7 linked regions of the Homo sapiens genome follow. The protein of the gene in region 6 interacts with the protein of the main gene of each other region in a pairwise test. Each region holds a gene or a part of one and is shown on either strand. Other genes may lie near its edges. The genes, in order: GRIPAP1, ZNF655, RHOH, CDK6, CCDC170, CCNH and CCT4.

What was found.
Region 1: the proteins of CCNH (region 6) and GRIPAP1 interact in binary tests that used the Homo sapiens proteins (3 or more experiments, as listed by UniProt).
Region 2: the proteins of CCNH (region 6) and ZNF655 interact in binary tests that used the Homo sapiens proteins (3 or more experiments, as listed by UniProt).
Region 3: the proteins of CCNH (region 6) and RHOH interact in binary tests that used the Homo sapiens proteins (3 or more experiments, as listed by UniProt).
Region 4: the proteins of CCNH (region 6) and CDK6 interact in binary tests that used the Homo sapiens proteins (3 or more experiments, as listed by UniProt).
Region 5: the proteins of CCNH (region 6) and CCDC170 interact in binary tests that used the Homo sapiens proteins (3 or more experiments, as listed by UniProt).
Region 7: the proteins of CCNH (region 6) and CCT4 interact in binary tests that used the Homo sapiens proteins (3 or more experiments, as listed by UniProt).

The regions. Positions count from the first base shown.
Region 1 is NC_000023.11:48,992,265-48,995,764, forward strand, and holds part of GRIPAP1 (GRIP1-associated protein 1), read right to left. Parts: intron 1,315-3,500; coding exon 1,164-1,314; intron 1-1,163. UniProt on the Homo sapiens protein: Regulates the endosomal recycling back to the neuronal plasma membrane, possibly by connecting early and late recycling endosomal domains and promoting segregation of recycling endosomes from early endosomal membranes.
Region 2 is NC_000007.14:99,565,142-99,568,641, reverse strand, and holds part of ZNF655 (zinc finger protein 655), read right to left. Parts: intron 1-3,500. UniProt on the Homo sapiens protein: Probable transcription factor.
Region 3 is NC_000004.12:40,195,724-40,199,830, reverse strand, and holds the start of RHOH (rho-related GTP-binding protein RhoH precursor), read right to left. Parts: upstream 2,801-4,107; 5' UTR 2,531-2,800; intron 1-2,530.
Region 4 is NC_000007.14:92,826,574-92,830,073, forward strand, and holds part of CDK6 (cyclin-dependent kinase 6), read right to left. Parts: intron 1-3,500. UniProt on the Homo sapiens protein: Serine/threonine-protein kinase involved in the control of the cell cycle and differentiation; promotes G1/S transition. Phosphorylates pRB/RB1 and NPM1.
Region 5 is NC_000006.12:151,497,017-151,500,516, reverse strand, and holds part of CCDC170 (coiled-coil domain-containing protein 170), read right to left. Parts: exon of another isoform or gene 3,453-3,500; intron 2,382-3,452; exon of another isoform or gene 2,311-2,381; intron 1-2,310. UniProt on the Homo sapiens protein: Plays a role in Golgi-associated microtubules organization and stabilization.
Region 6 is NC_000005.10:87,406,431-87,409,930, forward strand, and holds part of CCNH (cyclin-H), read right to left. Parts: intron 2,934-3,500; coding exon 2,860-2,933; intron 1,757-2,859; coding exon 1,546-1,756; intron 1-1,545. UniProt on the Homo sapiens protein: Regulates CDK7, the catalytic subunit of the CDK-activating kinase (CAK) enzymatic complex. CAK activates the cyclin-associated kinases CDK1, CDK2, CDK4 and CDK6 by threonine phosphorylation.
Region 7 is NC_000002.12:61,875,157-61,878,656, forward strand, and holds part of CCT4 (T-complex protein 1 subunit delta), read right to left. Parts: intron 2,359-3,500; coding exon 2,237-2,358; intron 1,897-2,236; coding exon 1,764-1,896; intron 1,079-1,763; coding exon 939-1,078; intron 1-938. UniProt on the Homo sapiens protein: Component of the chaperonin-containing T-complex (TRiC), a molecular chaperone complex that assists the folding of actin, tubulin and other proteins upon ATP hydrolysis.

The sequences.
Region 1 (3,500 bases), on a different chromosome or scaffold from region 6:
CAAAGTGCTAGGATTACAGGTGTGAAACACCGTGCCTGGCCTAATTATTTTATTTTTAGTACACACAAGTTCCTGCTATGTTGCCTAGGCTGGTCTTAAACTCCTAGCCTCAAGAGATCCTTCTGCCTCAGCCTCCCAGAGTGCTGGAATCAAGGTATGAGCCACTGTGCCCAGGCTCTCACAAATATTTTAAGCCCTATCAACCACTAAGATTCTGTTTACTATTAAATTAGCCCAAGCTGGTTTCACAAATCCCATTCTCAATCCTTGAAGCCCCACCCATAGCCCTTGAAGGCCATGCCCACCATATGCTACCACTGACTTACAGCTGAATCCCTCCTAGAGCCTCCTAATTCCTACTCACATTCTACTAAGTCTCCCTCCTGGTCATGGAACCAGCATCCATCACCACAGAAGTCCCAGCTGCTCTCCAAAGTTCCACACACCACATGCTCCCACACTCTATCAAGCTTTCTTTCAGCTTTCATCCCAGACCCCACTTACAATCTGGGCTCAGAATCTTCCCAACACTCCATTCACTTTTTCACTTAGCAAATATCTCCTTTTTTTTTTTGAGATGGAGTCTCGCTCTGTCGCCCAGGCTGGAGTGCAGTGGTGTGATCTCGGCTCACTGCAAGCTCCACCTCCCAGGTTCACACCATTCTCCTGCCTCAGCCTCCAGAGTAGCTGGGACTACAGGCGCCCGCCACCGTGCCCGGCCAATTTTCTGTATTTCTAGTAGAGACGGGGTTTCACCATGTTAGCCAGGATGGTCTTGATCTGCTGACCTCGCAATCCGCCCGCCTCAGCCTCCCAAAGTGCTGGGATTACAGGCGTGAGCCACCGCGCCCGGCCGCAAATATCTCCTTTTTGACATTCAAGCTGCTAATCTGTAACATCTGCTAGGTACCAGACACTGAACTAATGCAGAATGATATCACCTTTTATCTCTACTACAATCTTCTGGGTGACAGACATCACTACATGCACTGTGTAGATGATAAGGCTTTGGCTCAGAGAGGTGAAATGGCTTGTCCAAAGCCACACAGGGCATGGGCCAACCCTATTTCTGAAGCCCTTCTCCTTCCCCTGAGAGGATGACGGCCTTCCTTGCCCTACTCAAGCCCCAATGTCTCCGCATCCCCAGGAGGGCCTCTATGCACCTGCCACGTTCTTCTGCAAGGCTGTGTTTTCAGCCTGTAGCCTCAGCAGCTCCCCATCCACGAGGGGCCCAGCTTGGGCAACCCCTGCTCCTGCAGCCCCCTCCTTCAGTTGCTGGTTCTCTTGCTCCAGCTGTTCCATCTGGCTGCAGAGCTGAACAGAGGAAGAGAAGGGGCAGAGAAGCAGAGAATCAGAGCAGTATTTGCTGAAACCTACATAGCATTTGTCCATGTACTTTACAATTCACTTAATTCCCATAATGACCCTATGATATAGGTGCCCTCCCACTTTACAAATAAGGACATTGAGGCACAGAGATGTTAAACAAGTTCAAATTCACACATCTTTTAAGTGGCAGAGTCAGAGAATACCAAGAGCATACCAAGTATGAGGACACCAAAAACCATTTTCCTCTTCCTACTCCCAACCTCAGAGATGCAATCCAAGACCTCAGGCTCCTCTGGAAGTTGTTAGTGCTACAGACAGCCTCACTGCAACCCCTCTTCTGTGGAGGGCTGGATCCTGGGCCCAGAGATAGCTCCCTCTCATCCTAAGCACCACAAAGAGCTCGCAGGGCATTTCCAGGGCCAACACTGATGACAGCTCCTGCATTGCCAGCCGTTAGTCTTGGAGAGGTATACAATGCCAATACAACTAAGCCAGCCCCCTGCCCAACTCCTGGCTGAAGTACACTTCTCAAAGCAGTCCTGAGAAAATTCCTTGTCCCCATTTTCAGATGAGAATATCGAGGCCTACAGAGAATTTTTATTTTATTGCCTGCAATATTTTCTTTCTTTTTTTTTTTTTTTTTTTTTTGAGATGGAGTCTCGCTCTGTCACCCAGCCTGGAGTACAGTGGCACGATTTCAGCCCACTGCAACCTCCGCCACCCGGGTTCAAGTGATTCTCCTGCCTCAGCCTCCTGAGTAGCTGGGACTACAGGCATGCGCCACCGTGCCCGGCTAATTTTTGTATTCTTATTAGAGACGGGGTTTCGCCATGTTGGCCAGGCTGGTCTTGAACTCCTGACCTCAGGTGATCCACCTGCCTCGGCCTCCCAAAGTGCTGGGATTACAGGCATGAGCCACCGCACCCGGCCTGCTTGCAATATTTTCTACCCAGAACACCAATCCTCTCATCCAGTTCTTCACCTAACTGGCTTCTTTGCATCCCTCAGTGCTCTGCTCAGATGTTGCCTTTAAAGTAGTATCCCTCAACACAGAAAATTCCAGTACTCTCTGTCACAGCACTGTTCATTTCTTTCTTACCTAGTACTAATCAAAATTTTCTTTTGTAACAAGCACAGATTCTGAAACCAGACTGCTTGAATGTGAATTTCTGCTCTGCCATTTACTAGCTGTGTGACAAATTACTTAATCTCCCTGGAACTCAGTTTTCCTCATCTGTCAGATAGGGATACTAATATCTCATAGGCTTATTTCAAAGATTAAATGAGTGAATAATGTAGAGTACTTCAAACAGGACTTGGCACACAGTAAGCACCATATAAATGTCAGCTATCACTACTAGTATTATTTGTTTACTGTTATCATCTTTCTCCTCATCCCACCCCCAGAATGTAAGCTACCCAAGAGTGGAGATCATTCTGTGCTGCTTACAACTGTATTTCCAGAACATAGAGCATGTGGTGGGTACTCAGTAACTATTTGTCGAAGGAACAATTAAGCTGAAATGTCTTGATGAATAAGGGGTGGTGGCAGGTTTAACGTAGCTCTCTCTGAGAGCACTTCCAGTTCCTGGGAGGAGTTGGAGGAGGAAGGGGACTATGTAGGAAGTCTCTACGACTAGCCCAGTGCTGGCCCAGGGCAGATGCAGGGAAACAAGCTGGATTTATGGAAGAATGTCTGCCCCTGCCTCACTCTGCAAGAATCATGATACCATGGAGGCTGGAGGCAGGAAGCAGTGAGGAGTCAGTCAGTGAAGCCAGCAGTTATGTGAATACCAGGGGCTCTGAACTAGGAGCAGGACTGGGGCACTGGAATGTATTAAGTAAAGGAGTGATGTCATAAGATCTGCAGGTCAGAACAGCCTCTGTGGTGTGAACTAAGTAGAAGAAACTAGAAGTGAAGAGACCAGGGAGGCGGCTGTAGAAACAGCAGATGATAAGTGGTAGAGGCTAAGGCAAAGCAGGGCCACAGGGTGGATATAAAACTTTTTTTTTTTAAATTGAGACAGAGTCTTGCTCTGTCGCCCAGGCTGGAGTGCAGTGGTGCAATCTTGGCTCACTACAACCTCCGCCTCCCGGGTTCAAGCGATTCTCCTGCCTCAGCCTCCCGAGTAGCTGGGACTACAGGCACGTGCCACCACACCCGGCTAATT
Region 2 (3,500 bases), on a different chromosome or scaffold from region 6:
TACAAAAAATTAAAATTAAAAATTAAAAGGGATCTAAAAGATGATTTATTATCAAGGAAATGGAAATCCTTTACAATAAAAATCCAAACCCCAGCCAGGCACGGTGGCTCGCGCCTGTAATCCTAGCACTTTGGGAGGCCAAGGCAGGCAGATCACAAGGTCAGGAGATCGAGACCATCCTGGCTAACACGGTGAAACCCTGTCTCTACTAAAAATACCAAAAATTAGCCGGGCGTGATGGCGGGTGCCTGTAGTCCCAGCCACTCGAGAGACTGAGGAAGGAGAATCGCTTGAACCCGGGAGGCAGAGGTTGCAGTGAGCCGAGATCACGCCACTACACTCCAGCCTGGGAGACTCCATTTCAAAAAAAAAAAAAAAAATCCAAATCCCTAGACAATAGTCCAAACAATAATAAATTTGAGGAAACTCCACTATAAATAAATAATTTGAACACACTCCTGAAATTTTTATTTGTATTAAAAAATCTGGTCTATGGCTCATATCGCTTGCTATTCTTTCCAAAATATTAAAGTAACTAGCACAAGGCAGGTACTTAATTTTTTTTTTTTTTTTTTGGCCGGGGGGTATGGAGTCTCGCTCTGTCGCCCAGGCTGGAGTGCAATGGCATGATCTTGGCTCACTGCAACCTCCACCTCCCGGGTTCAAGCGATTCTCCAGCCTCAGCCTCCTGGGTAGCTGCAATCACAGGCATGTACCACCATGCCCAGCTAATTTTTGTATTTTTAGTAGAGACGGGGTTTCACCATGTTGGTCAGGCTGGTCTCGAACTCCTGACCTTGTGATCCGCCCACCTCACCCTCCCAAAGTGCTGGATTACAGGCGTGAGCCACCGCACCCGACACAAGCCAGGTACTTATATGCATAATCTAATTCAATCCTGTACCCAGAAGGTAGACATTATTTTTCATGTTTTATAAACCAAGAAAATGAGTGTCAGATTAAATAATTTGCTCAACATACTACAGCTGGTAAGTGGAACCCAAGCTTGATCCCAGTTTATATTCTTTCCAACCTATCATACTGCCTATCAAAGAAAGCATTAGTAGCAGGTTCTCTTGACATTGACGTGAATGCTTTTTTTTTTTTTTTGAGACGGAGTTGCACTCTGTCACCCAGGCTGGAGTGCAATGGCACGATCTCGGCTCACCTCAACTCCACCTCCTGGGTTCAAGTGATTCTCCTGCCTCAGCCTCCAGAGTAGCTGGGATTACAGGCATGCGCCACCATGCCCGGCTAATTTTGTATTTTTAGTAGAGACGGGGTTTCTCCATGTTGGTCAGGCTGGTCTCGAACTCCCAACCTCAGGTGATCCGCCTGCCTTGGCCTCCCAAAGTGCTGGGATTACATGTGTGAGCCACAGCACCTGGCCGACTCTATGCTTTCAAAATATGCACTTGCTTTACATTTTTTCCGTTTAAAATTAAGTTATTAAAACCTTTTGATTTTAAGGCTGGATGTGGAACACATGAGGCCAAGAGTTCAAGACCAGCCTGGCCAACATGGCAAAACCCCATCTCTACTAAAAATACAAAAATTAGCTGGGTATGGTGGTGCATGCCTGTAGTCCCAGCTACTCTGGAGGCTGAGGCACAAGAATGGCTTGGGCCTGAGAGGCGGAGGTTGCAGTGAGCTGACATTGTGCCACCACACTCCAGCCTGAGCGACAGAGCAAGACTGTCTCCAAAAAAAAAATTATTTTATTTAAATCTTGAGAGTTTTCTAATAAAATTTATTTTAATCTGGTCTTCAAAAATAACAGTTAAAGCTGAGCATGGTGTTGGCTCACATGTGTAATCCCAGGACTCTGGGGAGCTGAGGCATGCAGATCACTTGAGCCCAGGAGTTCAACAGCCTGGGTAACATAGCGAAACACCTTCTTTACTAAAAATAGAAAAAAATTAGCATGATGGTACAGGCCTATAGTCCCAGCTACCCAGAAGGCTGAGGTAGGAGGATCACCTGAGCCTGGAGGGAAGTCCAGGCTGCAGTGAGCTGTTATCATGCCACTGTATTCTAGCCTGGGCAACAAGAGGGGACCCTGCCTCAAAAATAATATTTAAAATTTGCCTTATCATATGGTTTGCTGCTTTTACTACGGCTATGCTTTTAGCCATCTGAAAGCTTCACGCTTTTCTTCCTGGTCCTTAATACACAAATAATATCTCTCCTTAGCAATATCATTCTTTTGTAGATACCTGTTGGACTGGAATGTGTCCCTAGAGAGTTTTACTTTTTGAATGCATGTCCTTTCTGGTCCCAAACTATATACTGGCCTGTCTGTCCAATTTGTCATGGCATTTTGAATTTTTCTTGTCATCAGAGTACACACAACTCACTAAAAATATTAAAAACTCCATGTGTAGTTGAACTTATTGTCCTAAGGGCACAAAGTAGTGAAAAAGTGCAGGGGCTTCAGAGGCAGATCTGGGTCCCAAGCCTCTCACTGATCCTGCAAAGATCACTTAACTTCTCTGAGCCTCAGTTTCCTCAGATATAAAATAGGAGCAGTGTCATCTGCTCACAGGGTTATGGTAAGGATTAAATGAGATATATACACATATCCTTTATATATATATATACACACACACACACACACACATATAAATGTCCTATGTCTGTGTGTGTGTATATACATATGTGTGTGTGTGTGTATACATACATATATATAGTACCCAATAACATATTGGCTGCTCAATAAATACTAAATAGCTGTGACAATGGAAAACATTCTGTGCAAAATAACTGTAGTCCTTCATGACATCAAGTTAAAAAAGCAGAGAGTATGTGCCAAACATTCCCAATCTACTGACCCAGTTAATATCAATTAGAATTTTAACAAGCATGCTTCTGAGGCCATCATCTAATAGGGCACCTGCCACACTTACCCATGTGAAAAGCAACTCGGTCCCCTTTATGGGTCTTAATCTACCACACTAAGTAACAGGTAACTTCCCTATGGATAGTGACCCAGAGGCAAATTGTTCATTCATCATCAATGGAGTATGTTCTTTTTTCAATTATGTGGTAACGAAAATTACTTATTACCGACTTCTTTACTCAGCTATTTGTACTCTGTATATTTACTGCTGCATAGTGGAAGCACTTAAGCAAAGGACCAACGTTCTAATGTCTGTGACAAATACAATCTGGAGGCCAGGCGCAGTGGCTCACAACCTGTAATCCCAGCACTTTGGGAGGCCGAGACAGGCGGATCACGAGGTCAGGAGATCGAGACCATCCTGGCTAAGATGGCAAAACCCCATCTCTACTAAAAATACGAAAAGATTAGCCAGGCATGGTGGCGAGCATCTGTAGTCCCAGCTACTTGGGAGGCTGAGGCAGGAGAATGGCATGAAGCCGGGAGGTGGAGCTTGCGGTGAGCAGAGATGGTGCCACTGCACTCCAGCCTGGGCAACAGAGCAAGACTCCGTCTCAAAAAAAAAAAAAGTCTTACAACCCTAAAAAGTTAAATTAATAAA
Region 3 (4,107 bases), on a different chromosome or scaffold from region 6:
AATCCTGGCTTTCACCCAGATCCAAGCATCCCAAACCCAAATAAGCACTCACTGCCACAATGATCCCCACTCCTAAGTAGAAATGGAATTTTAGCTGTGCCTTGCTAGCACTAAAATTAACACATTGTAAGATAAAATAATTTAATTTAAACTGGGCAAGGAAGAAAGGTCATGCTCTCTGCCTCTAATGAAAAGCACCTCTAGAATTCCACCCCAAGCGTTCAGAGAGCGACGTCAACCAAGGAGGCCCACAAGTAATGCAGCGGATACTGAGAGGACCTCTCTCATCTCATAAGCTAGAGAAACTGTTACCAAATGGCTTAAAATAGCGGTTTCCAAGTTTGTTTTCCTTCTTTCATATGTATTCTCACTAGAAAAACACCCAACCCCTGTGCCTTGTCCATATTTGGTGCTCAAAAAACGTTAATTCCCAGCCTCCACCTGTCACCCTACTTTCCCTGGAAAGGAATGTTGGGATTAGGAGAGTTAGCTTTGCAGGCTTCTTGCTCTTAAGCCAGGGCTCATAACACCTTCATTTGTGGCAATAGCCAAGTCCTTAATAAGAATCATAAGAGTTGCATCTATTGAGAGATTTTTTTTTCAGTCAGGCACTAGGCTACATGCTTTACATATTTTTATCTCATTTGATCTCTACGACAACCCTCTGAGGTAGGTATTTTCAGTTATTATTACTGTTATTAGAGATATTTTGTGAATTTTTTTTTTAATCTGAGCATTGAAGAAGTTAAGTAACTTGTCTGAGGTTCCCACAGCCCAGAAATGATAGAATGATAGAATGGGGATTCCATGCAAAGTGATCTGGCTCAAAAGTTGGGTTCTTATTCACCGTGCTGTATGTTTGTTATTATATGGGTTCAGATATTTTATGGTCCAGAAAAAAAGTGTCTGAATTATTATGATCTACTGACTCTCTAAACAACGTCCAGAAAAAGAACAGAAGCATACCCGTGCCATCTCATTTAGACATGCAAAGAAAGTAGCACATATTTCATGGAATTTGGGGACTGGCTTTTGAGGAATAGAGACTTGCTTATCATTCATCAACCAACTCGTTCTCCCAAGAGGAAGGCCACTTTAATTCCTGGATAATTGAAGGGCCTCCTTAAAATGAAGAAACCAGAGGTGGAGGTCTTACTGGTACCCCGAGCCACACGAACCTTTCTCTGCATAAATGATGTCCTAAGGGAAGACAGTAGAGGGCAAATGGAGGCCCACAGCCAGGCACAGGGATGCAGAAAGCAGCCCCAAGTGGGAAGAGGCCACGCTCGACAAGCTCCCTCTCACATGGAATTCTGCTGGTGCCGTGAGAGCCGAGGAAGCGCAGCCGCAGGGCAGAAGGAGACCAAGGACTATTGAATGGGGTCACTTCTCCCCAGTGCCTGCAAGGTCCTCGCTTTTGTGTCCACACCCTAACTGTCTAATCTGATTTCCTGCAATGTGTAAAACAAACTGTCTTCTCTTCTCCAGTGTCTCTTCAACTGGCCTTATCATCTCCAGGTCAGTCTCGCCTTTGTGCCTTTGCCCACAAGGTCCTCCCAGTCTGAAATCACCTGCCCCTTCTCCTTCTACCGACACTTCGCATTCTTCCAAAGCCCAGATCTTCCTGACAACTCCAGTTTGCCCCCAGGCCCCCTCCATGGAATTCACAGAACTCTTCAAGCCTGTGCTGCCCCACTCATCACTGAATTCTCATCTTGCATTGCTTCCTAAATTTTACTTCTTATCACAACTACCAGATTATAGGGTCCTTCAAAGTAGAGATTTTTAAAATATTTCTCTTATATCCTCCACGGCACCAGCTTAGAACCAATAAGGGGACACCAACTACTTGTTGCCTGCTTGAATACGTCAATGGCAACTTTCATTTAGTAAAGCACCTAAAACCGGTGATTTCCCAAACTTTGTTTAGTTACAACTCAGGCTACTGACTGGTACCTCGTAGCATATCTCCAAATCAAACCACCTCAGAAGAAAGATTAAATTTAATTAAAAAATACATGTTATACATCATAGAGCACTTTTGGGAAATGGTCATTAACATTGGCAATAGGTGAAAAACACAAGCTAGAAATTCCAGATTGAAATCTACATCATTTAGACTTCGGTTCTGTTTCTTTTCTGAACTAGACAACTTTAAAATTCATATTTGCACAACTTAGAGCATCTTTAGATTTACTTCATCAAACCTTGGGTAGTATTTAAACTACCCATACAGTTGAGCTCAGCCACAGTCACAAGCATATGCATTCTCTAGAATATCTGGAAAACCAAAAAGCCAACTATTGTAACTTTTCATGTTTCAAAAATCTTGTTAGGACTGTGGTGAGGGGCAGTGAATATCAAAGCAACACTCACCCCCCCGACCCCCGTCCCCCTGTAAATTGATTCTACACCTTACAGCAGGTAGCTCAGAGTCATTACGATGTTTGGCCTAGAGTAAAAGCTAAATAAAATTAGAAAAATTTCTTTTGACACCAAAGAAATACTTTTAAGGAAGCAAAATCCTTACCTGTTGCAGAATGCCGAAGAAATGTCTTGACAGTAAAATGACTGACTCCGGAAATCAAATTTGTTCAACAAAAGCAGGTGAAAACAAAAGCGGCCCAAGCCTTTTCACTGTGGTTGATTTCCTCATAGGATCAACCTCTCCCTCGTTCCCGAGAATATTAACTGATTCACACTGGAAGAACTGAAAATACAACAGTTGGGCTGGCAGGGAGTCCACCCCAAGATGGTTGGGTTAGTGTGTGTGGGGCAGCAGGAGCAATCCGAATGTGACAAAAGAGATTAGCAAGTTCCTGTGCCTAAGTCAATTTCCTGTAGCCGGCTTCTCCGCAGAGGGGGTTTCATTTGTGTGGGTTTAGGGGGGTGTGTGTGCACGTGCGTTTCTCTCCATTAGAATATGAAACTTCCCCAGATCAGAGGCAGAATAAGGCCTTTGCCGCACCGCTGGGTTTGCGTTTAATTTATCCCCCACCCTACTCCGAGACTATGTTTCTCTCCCCCTTAGCCCCATTTTCCTCCAGCAAAGCCCTACGTAAAACTGAAGAAAGGAAGACTGAAGAGTCCAAATGATTCCTCATGGAAGTAAAATTACCAAAAAAAAAAAAAAAAAAAGTCCATGCCACTGACCAATCTTGGTTAATTTGAGCTTAGGAAACAACACCTTAGAACTTTCCCCCCATCAGCTTGGGGAAAACAAGAGGTGGATTGTCTGCTTCGCTTTGCTGCATTAAAAACTATCAAATATTTTGCAAAGAACAGAGGCAGGCTTAGTGAGAGTTCGAGCAGCCCCCTGCCGTGCGTTCACCCCTGTATGGACGAGCACCTGGGCTGGGAGTTACCTGGCGATGAGTTGTTTTTTCAGACTCCTCAGAGTTTCATTATTTGCCTAAAAACACAAGTTTACTTGTTTTGTCCTAATGGGCAATCCAGGTGTAGAGACCATCTGCAACTACTTAGGTTATGGCTAAACGCCTAACCCAACAAATTGAACTTTTGTGATGTGGTCACAACCGCCTGTGCCCCAAATCCCTGAATAACTAACTGTTGATGCTACTGCTCACGGTGATAGCTTGGTCAAAATACCTGCCGACCGTAAGGATAAAGTCAACTCCATGCCTTTTATTTTATTTTATCAGTGCATCGGCCCCACACTCAAAGATTTGAGTTTAATTGAGCTGGGTTGGGACCGGACATCAATATTATTTTAAACCCCTCTGATTATTCTAAAGTACTGCTGCCACTCTAATGGATGAGAAGGAGGAAAGAACATTCCACGTAGAGGCAAATAGTATGTGCAAAGGCCCTGAGGTGGGAAAGAGGTTGGCATGTTCAAAGAAGTGAAAGCAGATGACTGTGCTTGCAGCATAGTTGTAGAGGGAATCAATGGTACAAGGTGAGCATTCTTATCAATAGACACCCAATTACCAAGTTCACAAGACTTCCACATGAACCCATGTGTCAATTTGTTAATGCACAGTAAGAACTCAATCTGCCAGCTGAGATCCTCGAGCCTTCTGAAGAGCACATTATCTCCTAGAAAATCCTCTGTGGGAGGCCAGGTGCAGTGGCGGTGGCTCACAC
Region 4 (3,500 bases), on a different chromosome or scaffold from region 6:
GTCTGTAGGATACATGTTAACAAATACAGAGGAAGAACATGAGAATATCCTGTCAAAGCCAAAGCAAGTACAATATTGAAGATAAAAAATGCATAGTCAGGAAAAGTTTAAATATGAGTAAGTATTTGAAGACTCTTACTAAATAGACTTCACATGTGTATGCCTTACAGTTAATACCCACAGATCTCCCAATGTCAATAGTCCAAGATACTTGCTAATGCAGTATACAACTCTAAAACGATGAAAAGTGCTTATCTAAGGGGTTTAAAATTTCAATCAATCAGGAAACATATACGGGTTAACCAATGGTTATGGACACCATGTTATTTATGGATATAAAATACACAATCCTGGTTCTCAAGTCAGCAAACATAAAGTCACTAAACTGAAAATACTTTTACATCTCAAGGGATTTTTTTCTGGTATATCCAATGACCATCAGTCATCCTGTCTTACCAATGTTTAATATAAACCTCTGTCTGAATCTTAGCCATCCTCAATCAGTTTATATCTACAATGCATACAATCACAGAATAAAACTGTTCACTAACAGTGAGATAATTTTTTGCATTCATAAAACAACTCAAATTTTATTATTATAAAACAGATCAAAGGGGGTTGCACTAGGTTAAATCTAAGACTTCTTCCAATTAAAAAAATCCTTATGCTGTGATTCTAATTCTACTGAACTAAATCCTTTAGGAAGGCCAGAGAATAGGAATAATTTAAGTGGCTACTTAAATTACAAAGCCAGTAGATATCCAAATTTCGGCAAACTACTATAGACAAAGGAGATGGTCAAAAATGTTTAATAATAATCCTGACTCAAATGGACTTCCAGACTACAACTGTACACTTGCATAGATTCCTGCCACATGCCTTGCAGTCCCTCCGGTTCACCTCTCAGGCAAGAGCAGCTACATGTGCAGCTGGTAAAATAAAAATCAGGTATGGCAGCAAACTGGTGATATTCAAGAAAACTACCCAGCAGCTCTTGGAAAAATCTCTCTGATTGCTGGCCTGCCTGCTCCACCAAACCTAGCATCTATGGATCATCACTCAAATAGTGACCTTCATGTAAGTATGCTTGTTATCAACCACCGGTGCGTTTTCAGTGCTGCCTCCTGGATCTTGGACAAAGCCCAACATCATACACACTAACTTCTCCTGTTAACAATTCACTGACACCCAGATTTCATCTCTGCTGTGTTCTGTTACATCAAGAAGCTCACAATTAATTTACTTCCTATGAAGACAGAGCAACTCATCTGAACCTCATGAGAAAGAACAATAGTGTGATTAGTTCCTCAGAAGGCATGGAAAACACATATTTGCTTATGTGTCTGATGGTTATTATGCCATCTAATTTTTAAGTATTATGATGTTTTTATTTCATTAACCAGAATGTTACATAATGTGCCAGAGCCACATTATGTAATATTTCATTCATCAGACAAGTACTAAGTGTTTCAATTTTTCCTACTCCTCTTTGTCTAAAATGAATTCAATATTATTAATGAATTACCTGCATAATTTACCTGTATCATCATTTAACTATAGCTATTTTAAATTATTATAATTAATTTAAATTATCATAATTATAGCACAACTTCCTTAAAAGAAGAATTTACTGGAATAATACTCTTGTAGAGATATACTTCAGTATGGCATACTGCAGAATTCAGGAATTTACTGAATTTTTATTCATTTATCGTTATGTCATTCATTCCTGGCAAACTGTCACTTTTGTCTACATACAGTTCATTTTTTCCAAACTAGAAATGTACTCACCCGATTTAACTGCTTCCATCAAACAAACAAACAAAAATTGCTACTTAGTTTTAAGAACAAGTCAATAACTTTAAAATGGCATGACAGACAAGTAGCTTGACCTCCAGAGTGTCTTCCAACCCTAATATCCATGGTTTTACAATGATAGGCTGCATGTATGCTGTGTTTCCTTCTTAAAAAACTTTCCTAAGAAATCATTAATAGTGAGACATTTGTTTTTTTAAAAAAGAAATAATTTATTTTTAATAGGAACCTATTTGCATAGATATTCATTTACCCATGTCTTAAACATAGGAAAATATCCTCAAAGATATTCAAGTTTATACAAGTTTTCCTCTTATAGACCTTTTTTGTCCTTGATTCCATAGAGAGATTCTAATAATTCTATGTTGATAGTGGTTGTATAAAAGGGATATAACTGCAATGTCAAAAATTCAGCATTATCAAGTTCTTCTGTAGGAACAAAAAATGAGCAGAATACCATTGTGAAAATGTTTATTTACTAAACAACCTTGAAAAATCAGAAACTTTTCAAGGAACTCTCAGAGACAGAAAGAACAAACATACTTTTAACATACTGATATTTAAAAGGAGAATTAAACTCCTGCTTTTCCTGCTTTTATTGAAAAAAGCCCTAGTAAATGTATTATTCAACCACACAAATAGCAATTTTATTCAGAAGGATTCTCATGAACTAATCCAATTGAAGACCTGGCTTTACAGAGTCAAATATGTCATGTTTCTTTTACCCTGTTAACAATTAGGTTTTCCAGAGAAAATCACATTTTTACTCACCTTTTATGCAATATATTACTAAGATCTTTAAAAAAGAGAGAAAATTAGAAAACTCTCCTTGAATAATCATTAAGCTTTACAGCCTTTTCTTTGGGTTTTTTGTTTTGTTTTTAAAGCAGTGACTATTCTAATTATAATATTTAAACATCACAAGTTTATTCACTGATATGTAATGACTTTTAGTTTCCAGAGCCAATACTTGAATTTGAATTGCTTTTACTGTTACACTAATAAATATAATCCCTAGAAACAATACAGGTAAGCACTGGCTTGTATCTTTCTTACAGCACATGATCCTATCATGTATCAGGGTTATGGTGATCATCTTATTCCTTCAAACATGGGAAGAACTGCTTCAGGAGAGTAGCTAGGTATGATTTACCCTGGTATCTTTCCCAGCACCTAGCCCCATGGTTTTTAAAGCATATGCCCTTCCTAAATCCTTTTTGAATAAATGGAGCTCAAATGTTCACTTATATTAGCTATGTGTCAGTATCTCATATAGATCAATCCCTATGTTAGGGAGGTAAAATTTAATCTTCAAAAAGCACTTGATTCTGATTAGCCTTTTGGTTATGTTGCCTACTCAATCAGGAAATTCCTGGTAACCGAATTATCAGAAATATCAGTTGTTCTATAAAACTGGTTAGGTTAAGTATAACAAAACAAGGCAATTAAAACAAAGATGAGTAAATTTTTAAAGAGAAGAAAGAACTGCTCATCTCATTACAAGGCAAGTTCTACAAGTGCGGAGACTTTTCCAGGCTTGTTCATTGCTATATCCCCACCTTCTAGAAGAGTCTGGCACATAGTGGACCCTCAGTAAATATTTGGTGAATGAACAGACTGCTGACAAAACATGCTATAATTTTATCTCTATTGTTTTTAGTTCAGGCTGTTCAAACAGGATCCAT
Region 5 (3,500 bases), on a different chromosome or scaffold from region 6:
TTAGATTTTTTTAATGCAATATGGCTTTTCTTAGTTAACTAAGCATTTTCTCCATATATATTTATCATAATTACTGATATGTTTGTATTTCTTTCAACTATAATTTATGTTTTCTTTTTTCCCTATTCCTTCTGTTTCTTTTTCTCTATATTCTCTTTTTGGGGGTGGTGGGGTGGAGATTGGTTTTCTTTATATCTAGAGAAGGCTTCTGACTTAAGTTCATATGAAGACATGCAACTAGAGTCAGATCTCTTCTTAAACTTGATTTTGAGAAAAAGGAGTAGAACAAAAAAAAAAAAAACAGAGCAAACCAGAAGAGGGAGGAAATGGTTCTTTAAAAAGTGGAAATAGATACTACCTCATACCCATTAGAAAGGCTACAATAAAGGAAGAAAACACACAGAAAATAACAAGTGGGGGTGAGGATGTGGAGAAATGAAAACCTTTGTGCACTGCTGGTGAGAATGTAAAATGTGTGCAGCCACTACGGAAACAGTGGCAGTTCTTCAAAAAAGTAATAATAGGATTACCATAGGATCCAGCAATTTCACTTCGGGTATATATCCCTCAAAATTGAAAGCAGGGTCTCACAGAGATATTGGTTCACTCATTTTCATAGCAGCATTATTTACAACAGCCAAAAGATAGAAACAACACAAGTGTGCAGAGACAGATGAATGGATAAACAGAACATGACATATGCATACAATGGAATATATTTCAAGCTTAAAAAGGAAGGAAATTCTGATACATGTTACATCATGAAGAAACGTTGAGGACATTATGCTAAGTGAAATAAGCCAGTCATTGAAGGACAAATACAGTCTGATTCCACTTATACAGAGAGAGTGCGTAGAATAGTCAAATACAGCATGATTCCACTTATGCAGCGTGCCTAAAATAGTCAAATACGGTCTGATTCCACTTATACAGCGTGCCTAGAATAGTCAAATACAGTATGATTCCACTTATACAGCATGCCTAGAATAGTCAAATACAGTCTGATTCCACTTATACAGAGTGCCTAGAATAGTCAAATACAGTCTGATTCCACTTATACAGCGTGCCTAGAATAGTCAAATACAGTCTGATTCCACTTATACAGCGTGCCTAGAAGAGTCAAATACAGTCTGATTCCACTTATACAGCGTGCCTAGAAGAGTCAAATACAGTCTGATTCCACTTATACAGTGTGCCTAGAAGAGTCAAATACAGTCTGATTCCACTTATACAGTGTGCCTAGAAGAGTCAAATACAGTCTGATTCCACTTATACAGCATGCCTAGAAGAGTCAAATACAGTCTGATTCCACTTATGCAGCGTGCCTAAAATAGTCAAATACAGTCTGATTCCACTTATACAGCGTGCCTAGAATAGTCAAATACAGTATGATTCCACTTATACAGCATGCCTAGAATAGTCAAATACAGTCTGATTCCACTTATACAGAGTGCCTAGAATAGTCAAATACAGTCTGATTCCACTTATACAGCGTGCCTAGAATAGTCAAATACAGTCTGATTCCACTTATACAGTGTGCCTAGAAGAGTCAAATACAGTCTGATTCCACTTATACAGTGTGCCTAGAAGAGTCAAATACAGTCTGATTCCACTTATACAGAGTGCTTAGAATAGTCAAATACAGTATGATTCCACTTATACAGCGTGCCTAGAATAGTCAAATACAGTCTGATTCCACTTATACAGCATGCCTAGAATAGTTTAATACAGTCTGATTGTACTTATACAGCGTGCCTAGAATACTGAAATACAGTCTGATTCCACTTATACACCGTGCCTAGAATAGTCAAATACAGTCTGATTCCACTTATACAGCATGCCTAGAATAGTTAAATACAGTCTGATTCCACTTATACAGCATGCCTAGAATAGTCAAATTCATAAAGAAAGAAAGTAGAATGGTGGTTGTTAGGAGCTGTGGGGAGGAGGAAATGTGAAGTTATTGCTTAATGAGTACAGAGTTTCAGTTTTGCAAGATGAACAAAGGTTTGAAGATGGCTTGTGGCAACAGTTGCACAACAATGTGAATGTACTTAATGCCACTAAACTGTACATTTGTAAGTTAAGATGGCAAATTTTATGTTATATGTATTTTATATGAGGTTTTTAAAAGTAGAAATGATGGGAAGAAAAAGGAAAACAGACTTTAACTCCTTTATAGTTAGCTATGACCAGCTCTAAGTCCTTTGTTTTGAGGAACTATAGCTGCTGATAGAGTGTGTTGCTATTTACATTTGCTTCTCATAACAATTCTGTTGATAGTTATTCTAATTAACCCTTGTTTTACAGAAAGGAAAGAGATGCTCAAATTCCCAACAATGGTATCTACTGGAGCTGTAACTTTGATCTAGGTTTTCCAGGTATGTGAAAACACTGCCACAGCAAGAGAGCCTACAAGCCACCATATGTCTGTGGCTTCTCACTGGTGTCAGAGGATTTGGAATCCAAGCACTTTCCACAGAACTATTGCTACAGCTTTTTGCTGACTGGTGATCCTATTTTATAATTAGGTCACTTTTCTTTTTTTTTTTTTTTTTTTTTTTGAGATGGTGTGTTCAGTGGCACAATCTTGGCTCACTGCAACCTCTGCCTCCCAGGTTCAGGCAATTCTCCTGCCTCAGCCTCCCCAGTAACTGGGATTACAGGCACCTGCCACCAAGCCTGGCTACTTTTTGTATTTTTAGTACAGACGGGGTTTTACCATGTTAGCCAGGATGGTCTCGAACTCCTGACCTCAAGTGAGCCTCCCGCCTCAGCCTCCCAAAGTGCTGGGATTACAAGCATGAGCCACCGCACCCAGCACATTTTCACTGGGTAGCGTTATTTCAAATGCATGACAAAGTTATGCAGTCTTACTGAAAGCTATGTTTGTAAACTTCCCCCAAAGCATATCTCTTTCCTTCATGTTTGGGCTGCTCCACTTCAATTCTCATAATATTGCTGTTAGTATTTGTCACATTTTCCATCCCAGTAAGGCTGTGCTGGTGATCGCATTATAGGTAAATCCAACTTGAGAAGAGTGCAGCATTAAATTTTAGTGTTGATGAAGGAGTAATCTTTTTATGTGTCTGTTTTTCTTGATTGTAAACTCTTTTTTAATTTTTATTTTATTTTTGAGCCAGGGTCTTGTTCTGTTGCCCAGGCTGGGGTGCAGTAGTGCGATCAAGGCTCACAACAGCCTCAACTTCCTGGGCTCAAGTGATCCTCCCACCTCAGCCTCCCAAGTAGCTAGGACTACAGGCCATGCCTGGGTACTTTTTGTGTTTTTTGTAGAGACGGGGTTTTGCCATGTTGCCCAGTCTGGTCTTAAACTCTTGGGCTCAAGCGATCCACACACCTCTGCCTCCCAAAGTGGATTGTAAACTGTCAATTCTTCATTATGAGCAGGGTCAATCTCCAATTCATTTTTGTATCCTCTGTCCCTCCTACAGATTCTCAAAACACTGACTATTGAGATGGTGGCTGAAGTACTGATGGAA
Region 6 (3,500 bases):
TCTATATGCAATCAATCCTCATGTTCTATTGATTCTACCTAACTACAGGCTAAGCATCACAAATCCAAAAAATTCAAAATCCGAAATGCTCCAAAATCTGAAAGTTTCTGAGCACTGACATGACACTCAGGAAATTCTCATTGGAGCATTTCAGATTTTGGATTTGGGATGCTCAACCAGTAAGCACAATGCAAATATTGCAAAATCAAAAAAAAAAAAAGTGTAATCCCAAGTACTTTTAGTCCCAAATTTTTTAGATAAGGGATACTCATCCTGTATCTCTGAAGCCCAGGAAGCTCTTTCTGTATCCACAACCTTCATACGAGTGAAGCCCAGCACTATCTTTTGCTTGGACTCCTTTAACGGTACCCTGTTATTGACTTAATCTATTCTAATCCATTCTCCACGTTATGCCTGACACATACAGATGCGCGATAAATACCTGATCCATAAGGTTGCCAACATGATCTTTTAAAGCTGCAAATCTAATCATGCCACTCTCTAAATTTAAACCTTTCACTAGCTTCTCTTTGCTGTATTCAAAATCTGTAACATTGTCTCCACAGTCTAGACTCTGCCTTCCACTCTGGCAGCAGCTGTCTGTGATCTCTTCCCCCTGCATTGCTAGGCTCTGTTCAGGCTCTTCAGCACGGAATGGTTTCTTGAATTTGAGCTTTTTACCAGGGAAGTCTCTGATTGGAATGTTCTTCTCTCTCCTATTCCTACTCTGAATTTTATTTTAAATGATACGTTCTCAGAATGTTTTCCTTACCCCTTAATCTGTTATCTCCCTCTAAAATATATTTTCCCCTCTGTATCATTGAGCACACTGGATATATGATTGTCTAAAACCTTTAGATTGTAAGGTTCACAAAAGTTGAGACTGTTCCTGTCCTATTTCTGGTTACATCCTCAAGCACAAAGTTTGGCACATAGAAGGTACCCAAATTGAGCCACTGATCTAACATGAATGAACCAATTCCTGATTTGATTCGACTCAGACTATCCAACTTCTCTTTTAGAGCCAAACAAAACAACTTAAAAAAGTTGCTTTTGTCAATGTTTGTTTACGTATATTATTGATGCCTACATAGTGACTTAAGTTCACAAACCTCTAAAAATATAAGTCACTTAGCAATCTTCTAGTTTAAGAATTTTTTATGGTTTAAATCAGGCCCAGATCCATGACAATATAATTCAAAGTTAGAAGAGTTATCTTAAGCCTTTATAGTAAGCACCGTTCTAAACTCTCAATGGTCTTCATTACATCCCTGGATGTAATGAAGATCACTTAAATGAGATTGCAGATCACTTAAATCAGAAACTCTGTAAGTCCCACCCAACAATCTCAGTTAACAATTTCTCCAGATGACTGATGATGCCCACTGAAGTTTGAAAACAACTGCCCTAGATGACCAGGCCAGACCCACAGGTTGTATCCATGCTATAACAACGAGGATGATTATGAGTTTTAAAATTTTGGATTCTTTTGTTAAAGAATAGGAAAGGAGAATGTAGTATTAGTTTATTTTACATCAAGTTTACCTTTAAGTCGATGAGGAAGCCCTCAAATGGTCTGTAAGGATTGTGGACAATAAGGTGGAAATTAAGTTGCTGTATAAGAAGTAGTTCATATTCCAGTATCTGTTCAAGTGCCTTCTCCTGTCCAAGAGGACTCTCCCGGAGGTTTCCAACAAACTGAGGACTAGATACATTGAATTCATCTACTTTGCAGGCCAAAAATGCACAAGTGAGCCTAGAGGAAAAAATAAGGAGGCAGGAGGCAGGGGGTGGGTGGGGTGGAAGAACATGCATATACTTTGAGAAGTATCTAAATAATTTATTTCTAAAAGTATATTCTATAATTGCCTAATATTCAAAAGCGACTGCTAGACATTGCAAGAATTGTTTTTTAAAAGACACTTCCTGTTCACACTTCATTAGGAGACGTAAGACAACTATAAAATTAGGTCAAACCAATATTGCCATGGCATTCAAACATCACTGACTCAATGACAGTGTTATGCAGTACAACCTAAATATCTGGAAAAACAAATTAACTGAGGAATAAGAGTACTTTGTATAATGTAGATGGAAGAGTTAAAAATAAAGCAGTACCCACATATGTACCATGTAAGTATGGGAAGAAAAGTAGGTTAAAGGAACATTGTGGAAGGCCATCGGCAGAAGTCTCTAAGGGCATCTGAATAAGGGACTATTATTTAAGGGACAAACTTGTGAAATTCACCTGGCCACTTCATGCTGTTCAGTATGAGAAAACAGTAAGAAAGCTACTGTAAAAAACAGTTGGCAGTGAGATCAAGGGCCTAATCTTGACTGGTGGAAATGGGAATCAAAAAAGAGAAAACAGGTACAATGTCATTGAGAGCAAACTCTTTGATGAGTTTCATACTAATTTCATTTTTAATGATAGACACAGCGCTCAGCAGAGAGCAGCAACAACAGACCTTTGTTCAACTGAAATGAGTATGAAGCTATAGGATCCGTAAACTGACTGGATGTGGGAGGGGCCACTATAAATGATTCTCAGTCTGAACAACTGGAAGAACAAAGGTGTCTAATAGGAAGAGATGTTAGAGAAGTAGCTAATTTGAGAAAAACAAAATTTGAATCTGGACAAGCTGAAGTTCACATACCATCAGAATTACTGAAGTACAGGTAAACAGAGATCTCAAGTTCTGAATAAAAAAAAAAAAATAGAATTCAAGTCTAAATTACCCTGTATTAGGAAGTCAGTTCTCTCTCTCTCTCTCTCACAATTCTCTCCTCCCAAAAAATACTCAAAAGATTATAAAGGTCTTCTTAAATGAAAACAATATATTAGACAGACATACTCACATTATTATCCTGGGGTGATATTCCATTACTGAGTTATTAAGATAAAAACGTTTGAAATACATACAAGCCGTACCCTAAGGGTTAAAAAAAATATATCATCAGGATCTAGTCACAAATGTTAAATGTTAAATTTTGTGAAACAGAACTTATTTATGGAAAGGTTTCTTTGTAGAGATTACCCAGAAAAATACTAATACTCATTAATTCTTCTTTAATCAAAACAAATTGTGATGAATTACTACAGAAATGCCATAGCCAAAAGATTCTTTCCCATCCTTTGCTTGTCTATCCCCAGCCTACTCTGGCTAATCCTTCCTATGGTCACTGGATTTAAAAATACGTGTGTGTGTGTGTGTGTGTGTGTGTGTGTGTGTATTAGAAATCAGACTATCAAAAATGTTCTGAATTAGATAAATTCAGGAAGAAAAATACAAACGTTCACAGATTAACCAATCTTATAAAAATACTGACAAAAAAACATGGGCAAGGCAATAAGCCTTCTCTCTAAAGCCACTCCATATTTGTGATATAACCATGTATCCATTCCATGATTTGTGATCACTGCTGCCAACTGAATGGCAGAAGCAGCACTACCATTTATTGAATGTATACCATGTGCCAGACTCTGTGCTAAACACGAA
Region 7 (3,500 bases), on a different chromosome or scaffold from region 6:
ATTACGCACTTTTTATCAAAACATAATAATGCTTTTCCAGCTTGTAACTGCAAGGAAAAATAATGATACTGCTAAAAAAAAAAATGCAGATTTCTGGTGGTTTACCCAACTCAAATGTTTCTATAAAAATTGCTCTTAGAGGCTGGGTGCGGTGGCTCATGCCTGTAATCCCAGCACTTTGGGAGGCTGAGGCGGGTGGATCATGAGGTCAGGAGATCGAGACCATCCTGGCTAACATGGTAAAACCCCATCTCTACTCAAAAAATACAAAAAATTAGCCAGGTGTGGTGGCACGTGCCTGCAGTCCCAGCTACTCGGGAGGCTGAGGCAGTAGAATCACTTGTTGAACCCAGGAGGCGGAGGTTGCAGTGAGCCGAGATTGCACCACTGCACTCCAGCCTGGATGACAGAGTGAGACTCTGTCTCAAAAAAAAAAAAAAAAAAATTAAAAAAAATTGCTATTAGAAGTGTGGTTTAGACTCTAAAAACTGCATGCTTTCTTGGCCCTGTTCCTTAAGGGCTCCACCCTGAAGCCAATAATCGAAGAAATAAGTTTTTTAAAAGGCCAAAACACAACATTCTGGCAGTTAGTTGGCTATTTTAAAAAACCTACTTTTTTTTGTAAAAGAAAATTACACCTTTATTGTTTTGAATTTACAAGTCATATATTTGTTTAAAATGCTTTTCCTAGACATCTTAACTGAACTTATACCATTTTTTCCCTTGGTCTGAGCAAATGATGGTACAATATTGAGGCCTAACATTTTACCTGTGCTTTTAAAATAAAAATTCTCCATTTCGTTTCACCTAAGAGTTGTCTGTTAAGAAATACGAACTTAGAGTAAGTGCTTAAATCATATATTTTATCAGAAAAAATAAACTGCTAGTGGAGATCCAAAATTATCATTAAGGGATGAACAAAATAAATAGCCCCACACCTTAGAATAGATTTCTGTATGAGAAGGACATTACATCCTGTTTTTTTAATTTGCTTCACTAAATTTAAAATATAGGCTCTCTCTTCTCGCAGCACTCGGTCCATCTGGGCATAGTCAGAAACCACTATTTGATTATCCATCTGTTCAGAAAAAGAACATCATAATTTGCATTGTAAGATATTTTAAGTTTAAAAGTAGAATTTTAAGCGAAAATACTATGTGTTGTATAAATTCAACCAAAACTATATCAAGTAATAAATTATATAGACATGCATAGAAAAGAGTCTGGATTAAGATACACATCCCAAACTTGAGTCTTTTATTTTCAACTAAGTACACTGGTATCTTACATTTTGCAAGTAAATTTTTTATAACCAAAAAATATAAAATGGTTACCCTAGTTGTTTTCAAAAGATAGGGTCCCTCTCTAATCTGTGTGAATTTGTAAATTAACAGCAACAGTGAAAAGATGGGGTCCCACTATGTTGCCCAGGCTGGAGTGGAGTGCAGGGACTATTCACAGGTCATGGAATAGCACCCTGCAACCTCAAACTCCTAGGTTCAAGCAATTTTTCTGCTTCAATTTCCCAAGGAGCTGGGACTACAGGCATCGTTGCAAATGGCTAGCTCTCAATTTCAATATCCCAACTGAGGATACAGACTTGTCACTTGTGGCACCAACAATTACTATTTTTGTCTCAATTCTAGTAAGTCTTTTGAGATCTGCTTTAAATCACTAGTAGTATTTTCTATTTTTAATAAAGAAATGCCTGAGTTATTAAAAAGTTAAACACAGAGAACCAATTTCATTTGGATTCTACTTACGTCTGTTTTGGGAGCAGATAAGCAAAACTGAATAAGCCCAATCTTGGCCTTTTCAACTCTGGTTATGCCAGAATTTGACACTTTTTGGGTGAGAACCAGCCCTTCCACCAACTCACAGTCATCAATTGTCCCACTAAGGATAAAAGAAAACAAAGAGGGGTAGTTAAGAGGGAGTGGACATCTGTACGTTTAATAGATGAACAGATTAAAAGTCATCAGTCCAATAAAATATGATTCAGCCTCACATTTATTATTGCCCCACTCCTGGATCTCTTTGATCCACTGCTGCCTTACTATCATAAGGTAACATAAACAAAATCTCCAGATGCCCATACTAATACAAATTCTCACGAAAACAAAACCAAAAAGAGAAAAGAGAGCTTTGTGACTTTCATCTAGGTGTTTTTATTTATTTTTGGCAATCTGATGCTCATTTTCAAATTTTTATTCAAGTTGTAATTAGAGATGCTTACCCAAGCTTCTTAACTATTTTAATATCTCTAAGATCTACACTGGTGGCTGTGGCTGGGTCAATCACTTTCATCACTGCATTTACACTCATTGGAGAAAGCAGACTTGAATACTGAGAAACCACCTAGAATTATTAAAAAAAAAAAAAAGTTACCTTCACAGTAGAAAAAAGTCCTAATTTTTCAATGACAAAGATACTTAAGAAAGACTCTTATAATTTTTGCAGTGGGGTGTGGGTATGAAGAGGGAAACACTCATGAGAAGACAGTCCATAAAGTGTCTTTTCCATTCAGGTTGTCACCAGGGGCACAAAATAAAAACATGTATGCTTGCTTTTTTCTTTTATTAATATAATAGCCGGGACTGTAGAATATCAAAGTTTTACAGGAAATCCAAAAAGCATAAATTTAATTTTACGTGAGTATTTTCTATCTAAAATGAATGTGTGATGAGGCATCAATGTTATGTATGTACATTCCTGATGAGGGGTTGATAAAAATTGCTAACATTTATCAATCACTTAACATATGCCAGGCAGTGGTCTTAGAACTTTACATATTAACTCATTCAATCTTCAGATGGAGAAACTGAAGCCAAGAGGTTAAGTCATTTGGCCAAACAGCGTAGTTAAGTGGTGAAGTCAGTACTGAACAAACACAAGCAGTCTAGACTCAATGCCTAGTGCTTGTAACCATTACGCTATACTATCTGTATTAGTTCTAAGGACATCCAACAGTATCACTTAGTGTCCCTAACACTACCTAACATTCAAACAAAATGAATGTATGGACTTAATACTGATTTTTAAAAGGAAAAAGGATTAGGGGAAGGAAGGGATAAACACAGGATATTACAGAAAACAAGTGACATGAGTTCCAAAGAAATTTAAAAGCACAACACCGCTTTAAGTTTGGTAAATAAGAAAAGCAGCATAAGTATTAGTTAAGGGATGGACCACGATGGGCAGCCTGTCCTGGGTTCAAATCTCAGCTGTTTCTGTTAGCGGTCCTTGGATAAGTTACTCCTCTAGATCTACTCTTTTCATCTATAAAATGGGGATATGACTATCTGAGGGCCTTGAAGAGGACAATAAATGTAAAAAACTTATCACAATGCCCACCATATTAAATATTCAATAAAAATTAGCTATACTGCCAGTAATCTATGGCAGTCTTTCTGATTTGGTGGAGGAAAAGGTTTCTTATAGGCAAATTAAAATATCTAGCTTTATCAAAACACTGTTACAATGCATTAAACAGAAAAGTG